Regions from separate parts of the Homo sapiens genome. Here region 1 is linked to region 2. The links come from fine-mapping of genetic effects on gene expression. A gene starts in region 2. The other region holds a variant in brackets. All regions are shown on one strand. Distances are from middle to middle.

Region 1 (5,389 bases), 38 kb after region 2:
AAGAATTCAGTGTCAAAATCATATTAATTGCCACAATCTGAACAGGATAAATTAGAACAAAATCCAAATGTTTTCTTTTAACTAAAAATGAAAATTGCTGCAATATTCAAGTTCAAATTTCCAAAATGCTCCAGGAGTTGCAGAAACTCTCAGTGTTGATTGCTAAATTAAAATAAGAAACTCATGAGCTTCCACTTAGCACAGTTTGAACTTTCCTCTTAATATTCTTCCCAACTTAGCTAGACCTTCCTCCACTTTTATGGGACAATTGTAGAGCAACCTGGTGACCATGGTCCTAAAGCTTTGTAAAAACTGCAGAAAATGCAAAACGCTTGGGTGGAATATCAGGAATGAGGATTTGGGTGGAACTGAAAAAATTTTTGTTGGTAACCATGTAAATCATTTGATTCCCCTTATCCATGATCTTGATGTGGCTCCTTACATAGGTTTATCTGCTAATTAAAGTTTAGAAGAGTTTAATAAGGTCAGTAAAAATGTTGAAGGTTTTTCACCAAAGTCAATGACTCTTTTTGCCTCATTATTCAAGTGATAGGATGATGTTGCAAAAGTGGATTTGAGGTCGAAGACTGCACAAAAAAAGAAAAGTCTTGGATTATTTATGTTTAAAAATAGGAAAGATTTAATTAAAGCAACAGATAGTTCAGAACCATTGAAACTCTATCAAGACTTCATTATAGGTTCCAGGGAACATGATGCAACTACTCATGTATGTGAGCTACTGCGGTACCAAGGAGAGCACTGTCTCTGAAAGGAAATGCAGCAACGGTGAATCCCATTTCCTGTAACTGTCATGGCATCAGGAAAGTGGGGATCTCTTCAGGGAAAGAAATTGGGGCTCTATTACAACAGCTGGGAGAACAGTGGGAAAAAAGTGGTTTCCGGCTGGGCACGGTGGCTCATGCCTGTAATCCTAGCACTTTGGGAGCCCAAGGTGGGTGGATCGCCTGAGCTCAGGAGTTCGAGACCAGCCTGGGCAACACAGTGAAACCCTATCCCTACTAAAATCCAAAAAAAAAAAAAACATTAGCCAGGCGTGGTGGCCTGTGCCTGTAGTCCTAGCTGCTCAGGAGGCTGAGGCAGGAGAATTTCTAGAACCTGGGAGGCGGAGGTTGCAGTGAGCCAAGATTGCACCACTGCACTCCAGCCTGGGTGACAGAGCAAGAATCCGTCTCTTAAAAAAAAAAAAAAAAGGGTTACCAAATGGAAAAAGATTCACTTCTAAATGGCATAAAGAAGACCTAAAACTGGTGTCCATTAAAAGGCAGAACATTTTAAATAAGGCTAGTTTTTTCTTCTCCCTGTTAGTGAGATTTTGGAAATCACAGCAGAATAAAAGCCAGCTTAAAGGACCTCTTAAAGATAAAGGTCTTATTTTGTGAATTATATTTCAGGAAGTAAACTGAAATTCACCTCCTCTTGATCTGATTTATATTGCTGAAACAGTTATTTTGAAATAGTTCCAACTGAGAAAAGCATAATTGGCTTCTACAATCTTAATCTATGTAGACGTTTTTTAAAATTTAGTTTTTGCATAACATGGCACTAAGATTGATCTGAAAAAAGTGTTAACTATCTGGAAGCAAAAACGTTTATTAATTTCAATTGAGATAACTGGATTACTTTGTACAATGACTGTCTATGATGTGTTCATTCTTATCTGAATTCCAAAATAAATAAATGAGTGCCTCAAAAGAACTTGAAAAAAGGTACAACTACTTTAGAAAACTGTTTAGCAGGGTTTTTTTTTTTCATTAAAAGGAAAAAATACACCTGCCCTATGCCTCAGCAATTCCACTCTAAGTATTTACCAAAAGAAATAAAAAGATATATCAACACAGTGAGTTATATAAAATAATATCTTTATTCATTATAGTCAGAAATTAGAATCCATTCAAATGAATTCCAACAGAAAAATAGACAAATAAGTACGGAATGGTCATACATTGGAATATTAACTAATCAGCAGTTAAAAAAAAGAATAGACTAATAGTGTATGCAAAAACATAAATAAGTCTCAAAAACACAGTAAACAAACAAAGCCTTACCAAAAGAATGTATACTCTATGGTTTCATTCATATGAAGTTCTAGAATGGGTGGAACTAATTCATGGTGGGGAAAAAAAAAAAAACTAGACCATATGCATCAGGAGGCAGGGTGGAGATTGACTGGAAGTGGAAATGAAGGAACTCTTAGGGATAATTGGAAAAAAAATTTTTTAAGAGAGAGATGGAGGGTTTCACTCTCTCACCCAGGCTGCAGAGTTGTGATCACAGCTCACTGCAGCCTCAAACTCTAGGGCTCAAGTGATCCTCCCACCTTAGTCTCTCAAGTAGCTGGGACCACAGGTGCATGCCACAGCACCTGGCTAATTTTTAAACGTTTTGTTGAGACAGAGTCTTGCTATGCTGCCCAGGCTGATCTTGAACTTCTGGACTCAAGTGATCCTCCAGCCTCTGCCTTTCAAAGTGCTGAGGTTACAGGTGTGAGCCACTGCACCAGGCCAAAATAGAAATACTCTGTATCTTGTTTGAGGTCATGGTTACCTGGGTGAATATACTTGTCAAAATGTATCTAAGGCGTGTGATGGCACACGCCTATAGCCCCAGGCACCATGACTTTGTTGGTTGTTCCTCAAACCCGCCAACTACTCTCACCCAGTCTTTGTACTTGTTCTCTTTGCCTGAAACACTCTTGCCAAGATCTCTTCATGGCTTGCTTCCTTGCTTCCTTTGGGTTTCTGCTAACTTGTC[T/C]TCAGGTAAGAGACCCCTGACCACTCTCTCTGAAATTCTGTTATCTGACCTATCCCCAAAGGCTAGATGTATTTACCCTACTTTACTTTTCTTCTATAATAACTGATATTGTATTATGTGTTCATTTGATTATTTATTTTCTTCTTGGATTAGAATGTAAGTTTAATAATGGCAGATTGTTGTTGTTGTTGTTCTTAACTGTATCCCCAGTTCTTAAAATGGTGCTTGGCACAGAGCAGGTCTGGTTAAATGAATGAATGAAGACCTCTGTGGCTTATTTGAAATATATTATCTTCTGGTCTGAACATAGCTGGGAGATTCTCTTCCATTGCTCTAAACTCTTGTTATGTATAGTTGCATTTTGTCTCTCTCTAGAAGGGCCTCCCCTACCTGAAGAAACTTGGAGTAAAATATTTTCTTGTGATAAAATTGTTTTTCCACCCCATGTTTCAGACTATGGTTATTCTGGTTTACGGTTTCCTTCCAGATAGGTATGGATCACACTTATGCAACCCACGGTCGTTTATTCTCACATTATCTGATTTCCAAACCAGCTTAATTCAGATCATTAAGTTGCTGATCCAATTCATTCTTTAAATTAAAATGACTGAAATGATCAGGCTGACCAGACTTTGGTATGGCCATTCCATTCTTAAATGTTTAGTTTAAGATAGAGAACAGTGACATACACAGATATTCGTGTATAAAAATAAGATAAAAATATTTAAAATAGAAAAAGACACAATATTTTCACTGGAGACGAAGTGTTGGCCAGTGGCTGTAAGTGATGGAGAGCTGTGGTTGACTTCCTGGGGATATAATCAGTCTTTGTTAGGAAAATGAATGGCTACATAAGTACAGTACTTGTATTAAGTATTCTATGCTCAAGATTGAACTAGATTAATTGTCCGTAGAGTATTAATCTCAAGCACCTCAGGCTACTTCTTCACATTTCACAGCTAGCACTGGAATAAAGGAAGTGAGACCTTGAATTAAACCTCTTCATTTTATAGAAAGATCTTTCTTGAAAATAATAACTTGTTTTTAAAATTTTTCATTCATGTCTTATAGATGAGATCTATAAAAGTTTTGACGTAAACATCTGAGTTAGTGGCTCCTTGAGGATAGAGAGATAATGGATCAAACATGGCATATTTTTTAAATATGTCAGAAAAATATTTACATTTTGGCCATTTCATAGCATAGGTACATTCTTTGCACTGGTGGAATGAAGTAGTTATAAAAATAAATAACATTGGTGAATATTTGCTTCAAGTTAACCAACATTTTCTGAGCATGTGTTAAGCATTATGCAAGAAACTGTAAATACCAAATAAACCAGGTGTTCTCATGCTTGAAAGGAGCACAGGTGGAAGAGAGTTGTGAGATAAGATAGAAGCATACACAAATGAGTATTATGCTCTAAGGCAAACTTTGAAACACACCATAATCAAATGTAATATTCAATGAGAAAATAAGGCAGATTCTGTTCTTAAGTGTTTTCATCTGGGGCTTAAAAGATGTTTAAGACTTAGGACAAGTATTGAATGTCAGGCAGAAGGGACAGCATAAAAAAGGTGCACAGTCAGGAAATTGTGTGTATATTGGTGGGAATGATGGTAGCCTACTATGAGAAGAGCTTAGAATTGGAGGGAAGATGTGATGAAATATAGGATCGGAAAGTTCAGCAGGGGAAATGTTGACAGAGGGCTGAGGAATTTAGGCTTCATTACATTTTCTATAGGGAACCTCTAACGTTTTCTGAGGGCAGTAGTGACATGATCAGATCTGTTTAAAATAAAGTTACTTCTGCAAAGCAGTATTCGTTAGACTGTGGGGAAGAGAGAATAAAAGGAGTTTCTATAACTGCAACTCACCGTGAGTGGTAATAGTTTTACTATGTGTTTGCAAACATTCTACACTCAGAAGTTCAAAGATACATTTGTATAGGTGTCTTTATACATAGAAGGAGGCATTTACTGCCCATCAATGATAGACTGGATAAAGAAAATGTGGTGCATATACACTATGGAATACTATGTAGCCATAAAAATGAATGAGTTCATGTCCTTTGCAGGGACATGGATGAAGCTGGAAACCATCATCCTCAGCAAACTAACACAGGAACAGAAAACCAAACACCGCATGTTCTCACTCATAAGTGGGAGATGAACAGTGAGAACACACGGACACAGGGAGGGGAACATCACACACTGGGACCCGTCAGGGGTTGGGAGTAAAGGGGAGGGAGAGCATTAGAACAAATACTTAATGCATGCAGGGCTTAAAACCTAGATGACAGGCCGGGCGCGGTGGCTCACATCTGTAATCCCAGCACTCTGGGAGGCCGAGCGGGGTGGATCACGAGATCAGGAGATCGAGACCATCCTGGCTAACACAGTGAAACCCTGTCTCTACTAAAAATACAAAAAATTAGCCGGGCTTGGTGGCGGGCGCCTGTAGTCCCAGCTACTCGGGAGGCTGAGGCAGGAGAATGGCGTGAACCCGGGAGGCGGAGCTTGCAGCCAGAGATGGCGCCACTGCACCCCAGCCTGGGCGACAGAGCAAGACTCCGTCTCAAAAAAAAAAAAAAAAAAAAAACCTAGATGACAGGTTG
Region 2 (5,389 bases):
TAAGTACTAACAGCTTCACAGCTCCACAATTCCATTTCTCCAAAACATTCTTCTCAGGCAGCATGGTAATTAGAAATTACAATGACCCTATTTACGATGAGAACAGATTATGAAACAATATGTAATAGCTCACAATAATTGCGTATTCTACCACATCCCAATAAATAAAAGACTCAGTCAACCTATGGGGAAAATAAGCTCACTCCTTTACCACTCACCACTCTTCAATATTCTACATGAACATTAGTTATATCCTGGTGCATAAGAATTTACTGTGCATCAAAAAATAAAGTGATCCAATATTAATGTTGCTAGTGAATCAGATATAATACAGTAATAGGAATCATTGAAAGAAATGTTCCATCCATATATCTCAGTGAATATTATGCATACTTATGAGAAAACATAGAGCAAAATAATTAACATGGCAAATTTTCAACAGAAATTTTATTGATTTCTCACCAAATGCCAAGCAATGTGTCATAGAATCACAAAATGCTTGGCAAACTGATGTTACAATCATTCTAAAGTCAATTGTTTGCCAATTAATAAGATTTATTCACTACATAAGAGTACACAATTTCAAACAATAAGTATGCTAAAAGCATCCATTAAAGTCAAGTTGCAATTCTCATAGTTGCAAAAATGGCAAAGGAAATAATTATACATTGTCCCATATTCAAGTTTTCTGTGCGTTTCTGGAAAGGCACAGAAAACTTTCCCTATTTCTTAGGCTTTCTATATACTAGGTAAGAGGAAAGAACAGGCTAATAGCAATAAATAGTATCCACCTTTAAAACCTATCCTCTTCCCCAGGGTTGGTACAATAGACAATATTGATCCCTTATTTACAATCTAACTTCTACAACTTAACAGCTACAAGTTTCTTTTATGTAAATTTAAAAAACAATAATAATATTCTATGCTTTTATTTAATTATCAATATGTAAGTATGCACAAGGTCATTAGGTAAACTATATTTCTTACTATGGATCATAATAAAAAAAAGTTTGGAAGCCATAATTCAGAGAGTAAGTCTCCCTGGAGGTTTCATATTCAGTTACTAGATAGTATTGTTGGGAGAAAAAATTATATGCTACAATGTTATCTCCTTAAAAATTATTTTTAGGTTATTTCTAGAGTGGAAGGCATCAAAAAGAAGACCTGAACTTGTAAGAGACAGAAGTCATAGATGGCCCTTTAAACAATAAAATCTTCCGAGACAAACACTGCTAATGCCTTTAGGGCTGAACATCTGTGCAAGGATCTTCTTTATTTACTTTAAATAACGAGGGATCAAACCCAATTTAATCAAATCCATTCTCAATAAAAGGAGAAACATCCCTACTTCTCTCCATCAGAGAGGATGGTTGGGTTAAGTTTTCTAACAAGTAAGATATTTGTTCTTCTATTTGCTTAGCCTAGATACCTAGGATTCTCTCCAGAATATTGTCCAGCCTACGGACAACCAGGGAGCCTCAAAGATTTTGATGCATTTGTCTGAAAAAGAATGCTAGCTAATAAATAACCCCTGTGTCCCAAGGGCTTTTTCTCTGTCTAGCCATCCAGTTACTTCTATCTAATGAGGTCAGAGAACAAAGAACAATGGGAAATTTCCTCTTCCTCACTGCAAACTTGCCTCCCTCTCCCAGTCCCTGTACATTAATAAAAATTAACATTTATACAGTCTACTAGGTGCCAGACATGGTTCTGAGTGCTTCATATATATTAATTCATTCAGTCCTCATAACCAGCCTGTGAGGTAGAGAACTCTCGGTATCTCCATTTTACAGATAAGGAAACTGAGCTACATAGAGGTTAAATAAATTGCCCAAATAGTACTTACACAAATAGTAAGTAGTAGAGCCAGGGTTCTAATCTAGACAGTTTAATGTTGGAATCTATATCCTTAACCATACAGTTTTTACTCTAAATAAGGACTTATAGAATAGGCATCTCCTTGAAGGAAATGATGTTCTGGATATTAAATGATGTATGAAATACTCTATATTGTATTAATCTCCTAGCTTGGATCTTTCAAAATCTCTATATTGTTTACAGAGAAGAGATAATACCCAATCTACAGTCAAGCACCTGTTTCACCTCAGCTTAGCCATAAACTACAATACCTCTGTTACCACTGGGCAGCCTCCCTTGAGTAAAGATTCTCCATATCTGCATCTCTTAAACAAAAATAACTTGGTTCTCACCTTTCCAGGCATGAGTGGGGCAAAGCTGCAAGTCCTTTGCACATTTTGGCAGGTGGCTTAGCTCCTCCGCTTTAAGTACAACTTCTTAACAGCAGAGCCAGTCTTTGAAAACTTCAAAACTGTCTGGGATGCCTTTCCTCCTGAGGTATATATAGAAGCTCTTTCCCAGCCCTCTGTTGCTCTTCCAGCCAATCCAGAGCCTTAGAGGAAACTGCAGGCTGGAGAGCAGCAGCAGTGGGCCCTGAGGTGGAGGAGGGAATCCTTTCTCTGCTACAGGCACTACTGTGGCATAAGGCTTTCATCTGCTCTTATCACAACACTCTCTTGCTAACCGGCCAGGGCAGGGTTAGGCCCTAAACTGTGCACAGGTCATTGGTTGTTTGAACTCCTAATCTCAGGCCAATCACAAGGAAGATGTGAGCTTCCTGTGAAGCAAAGTGTCTTGGACCACTTCAGATCGGTCAAAGTCATAGATTCTTAGGACTGTAAGGGCTCCTGGAGATCGTTTAGCCCACTTTGTTTCACAGTGAAGGAAACTGAAATCTAGGGAATTCAAGGAATGTGTATGTGAATACTTACCAAGTGCCAGGCACTCAGCTGGATGCTAGGAATTCAGAGAAGAAAGAGAAAGCTCCCTGCCCTCAAGACCCCAAAACACATTATAAGTAAGTGATGGAGGCCGGGCTGGGATGTTGTGAGCCTTCAGGAAGCACCAGGCAAGGTTTTCTGGAGCTGAGAGACAAGATTACTGTTTATATAAATCAAAACAAATATGAATAATTACTATATATTCTTTATGAATCCATATGTCTGTGAAGGTACTAAAAAAGTGATCTAGGAGACCAAACACCAAAATCTTAGTAGGGATTGAGTATAATGATATTATCTCTGAACTCTGTTAATTCTGTCAGTGGTCTTCTGATTATACTTTGCTTGGATGACTAATGCTTTGTAATTCTTTGTACCTCCCCACCATAGCCATCCTTGCCTAGGCTTGTCTTTCCTTCTCCTTCAAACTTTTCCTGCTTCCTATCACTCAAGGAATATTTACCAAAATTTACCTGAATTGTGTCTTATCTTGTCGGGGCCCAAGGTGCTGATAAGTTAATCTGTAAATAAATGCCTAAAAGGTAGGCATGAGTCCAAGCTTTAAAAAAAGTGGCACTGAATAATCCGTAAGAAAAGCTCTGAATTTGGAATTGAACAGTACTCTCATAATTTTCTCTGTTATCTGAAATTAGTTGTTTTAAATGACTCCCTCTTTATATACCCTTTTTAGGCAATGGTTGATCAACCCCTGTTACTGGCTTGTAAAGTCAATGCAGTGCATTATGACCTGATGTTTTTAATGTAATAAATAGAATAGACAAATATCCAAGTGCATCGGATGTAAAAAGTATTGTTTTCTGAAATTTTGACTTTAATTATCAATATGTAAGTGTGCACAGGGTCATCAGGTAAACTATATTTCTTACTATGGATCATAATCAAAAAAGTTTGAAAGCTGTGGCTCTAAACCACACACACACACACACACACACACACACACACACAGACACACACGTTTTTGAGACAGAGTCTAGCTCTGTTACCCAGACCAGAGACTGGAGTGAAGTGGCATGATTATAGCTCACTGCATCATCAAACTCCTGGGCACAAGCGATCCTCCCACCTTAGCCTCCTAAGTAACTGGGACTAAAGACTCTTGCTACCATGCCTAGCTAGTTTTTAAATTTTTTGAATACACAGGGTCTAGTTTTGGTGTCCAGGCTGGTCTTGAACTCTTTGCTTCAAGCAATCCTCCTGCCTCAGCCTTCCAAACACTAAGCACAATGTCAGGCACATAGACATCTGTAAATACTGAATGAGTTAAACAAACTGTCCAAGTTCCGCCATCTATTGACTGAGTAAACATCAGCAAATCAATTAATTATCATTTTTGAGACATGTGGACACTGTTGTTGACTATTAAATCTAATAAAGGGAATATAAAACAAGTAGAAGAGACTCCTTGGGACAAGAGTCTAAATCATTATTTGATACCAAGGGGCCTTGAGGAGATAATAATATGAAAAGAAAAACCCCAAGTTTAACGTAGAGCAATGGAGGGTGATGTCTTGGCGAGGGCTAAAAATCAAAGCATGTTTCTGACTGTCCCAAAGGAGTTCATGTGATGGACTATTCAAGAATAAAAATTATCTCAATTTACTAAAAGATGGACTAGAACCCAAAATGTAAAATTCAATAGAAATAATGTTAAATCCAACACTTATTTGTTTTTAAAACTTTGTAAGGATGGGATAGCCAGAAAGTATGTAAAAGAGTGTGCTCTAGAGGCAGAAAGTAAAATAGTGATTGCTAGAGGTTAGAAATGGGAGAAATGGAGGAGTTCCTATTCAATAAAGTTTCAATAGGTATAAAGTTTCAGTTATGCAAAATGAAAAATTTCTAGGGATCTGCTATACAACATTGTGCCCATAGTTAGCTATACTGTACCGTACACTTAAAAATCTGTGAAGAGAATAGTTTGTGTTACGTGTTTTTTAACCACAGTAAAAAAAAAAAAAAAAAAAAAAAAGGAGAGAGCCTACTACGTAAAATAAATTTGAAGTCTGAAAAAATAAATTGAACTATTTTAAAATCTCCTTTCCCTCCTGAGAATCCCTCAGAAATGACAGTAAATATATGAAAAAGGTATAAATCTGTAATAGCAAAGAAAAAGAGAAACAAGCCATCATATTCTGAGTGATTTCAACCACTTCTTCATGGAATGTGAAAAGAGGTGAGTAGGAGTGGTACCTAATGAAACAGGGGAGGGAATTCAGGGGGGTGCTTCAAAGAGATATCCATCTGCCCTGGAGGATGCCACAGTGGTTTGGGCTCCAAAGCACTAGATATTACAGTTCTACAGAAGGAAGGAGTTAGCTGTGCAAGTGGAAGCAGTGAGAGACATTGAACATTTTCATCAGATGAAAAGGATCTCCTGCCCACACAACTGCTCTGATTCATCTCTAATTCATTTCCTTAAATCATGTGTAAGTGTCTTTATTTTAACTATTATTAGCAATATATTTATTGAGATGCATTTTATCACTTCTAATTTGGGGACCTCTTGGACTATGTGATCCATGGTGAACAGACGTCTATTCACTAATCTCGCTACTCACAGTAAGAGTCTC

What was found. PIP is the estimated chance that this variant, and not a neighbour inherited with it, causes the effect.
Region 1: its variant is the best candidate, but not a certain one, in a credible set for the expression of RGS5 in whole blood (TOPMed, PIP 0.88).

What each region holds. Positions count from the first base shown.
Region 1 is chr1:163,238,293-163,243,681 of GRCh38, forward strand. It overlaps a transcript of RGS5 not described here and the pseudogene TRNT1P1. Among named protein-coding and RNA genes, the nearest start is that of RGS5, 38 kb to the left of the region's middle. The variant T/C (reference allele first, on the strand shown) is at 2,773.
Region 2 is chr1:163,200,582-163,205,970 of GRCh38, forward strand. RGS5 (regulator of G protein signaling 5) reads right to left here and starts at 2,335. Exons shown (of 5, transcript NM_003617.4): 1 at 2,211-2,335. The coding sequence starts at 2,254. All of the region lies in intron 2 of RGS5-AS1 (RGS5 antisense RNA 1), which reads left to right. RefSeq lists an enhancer at 2,399-3,064.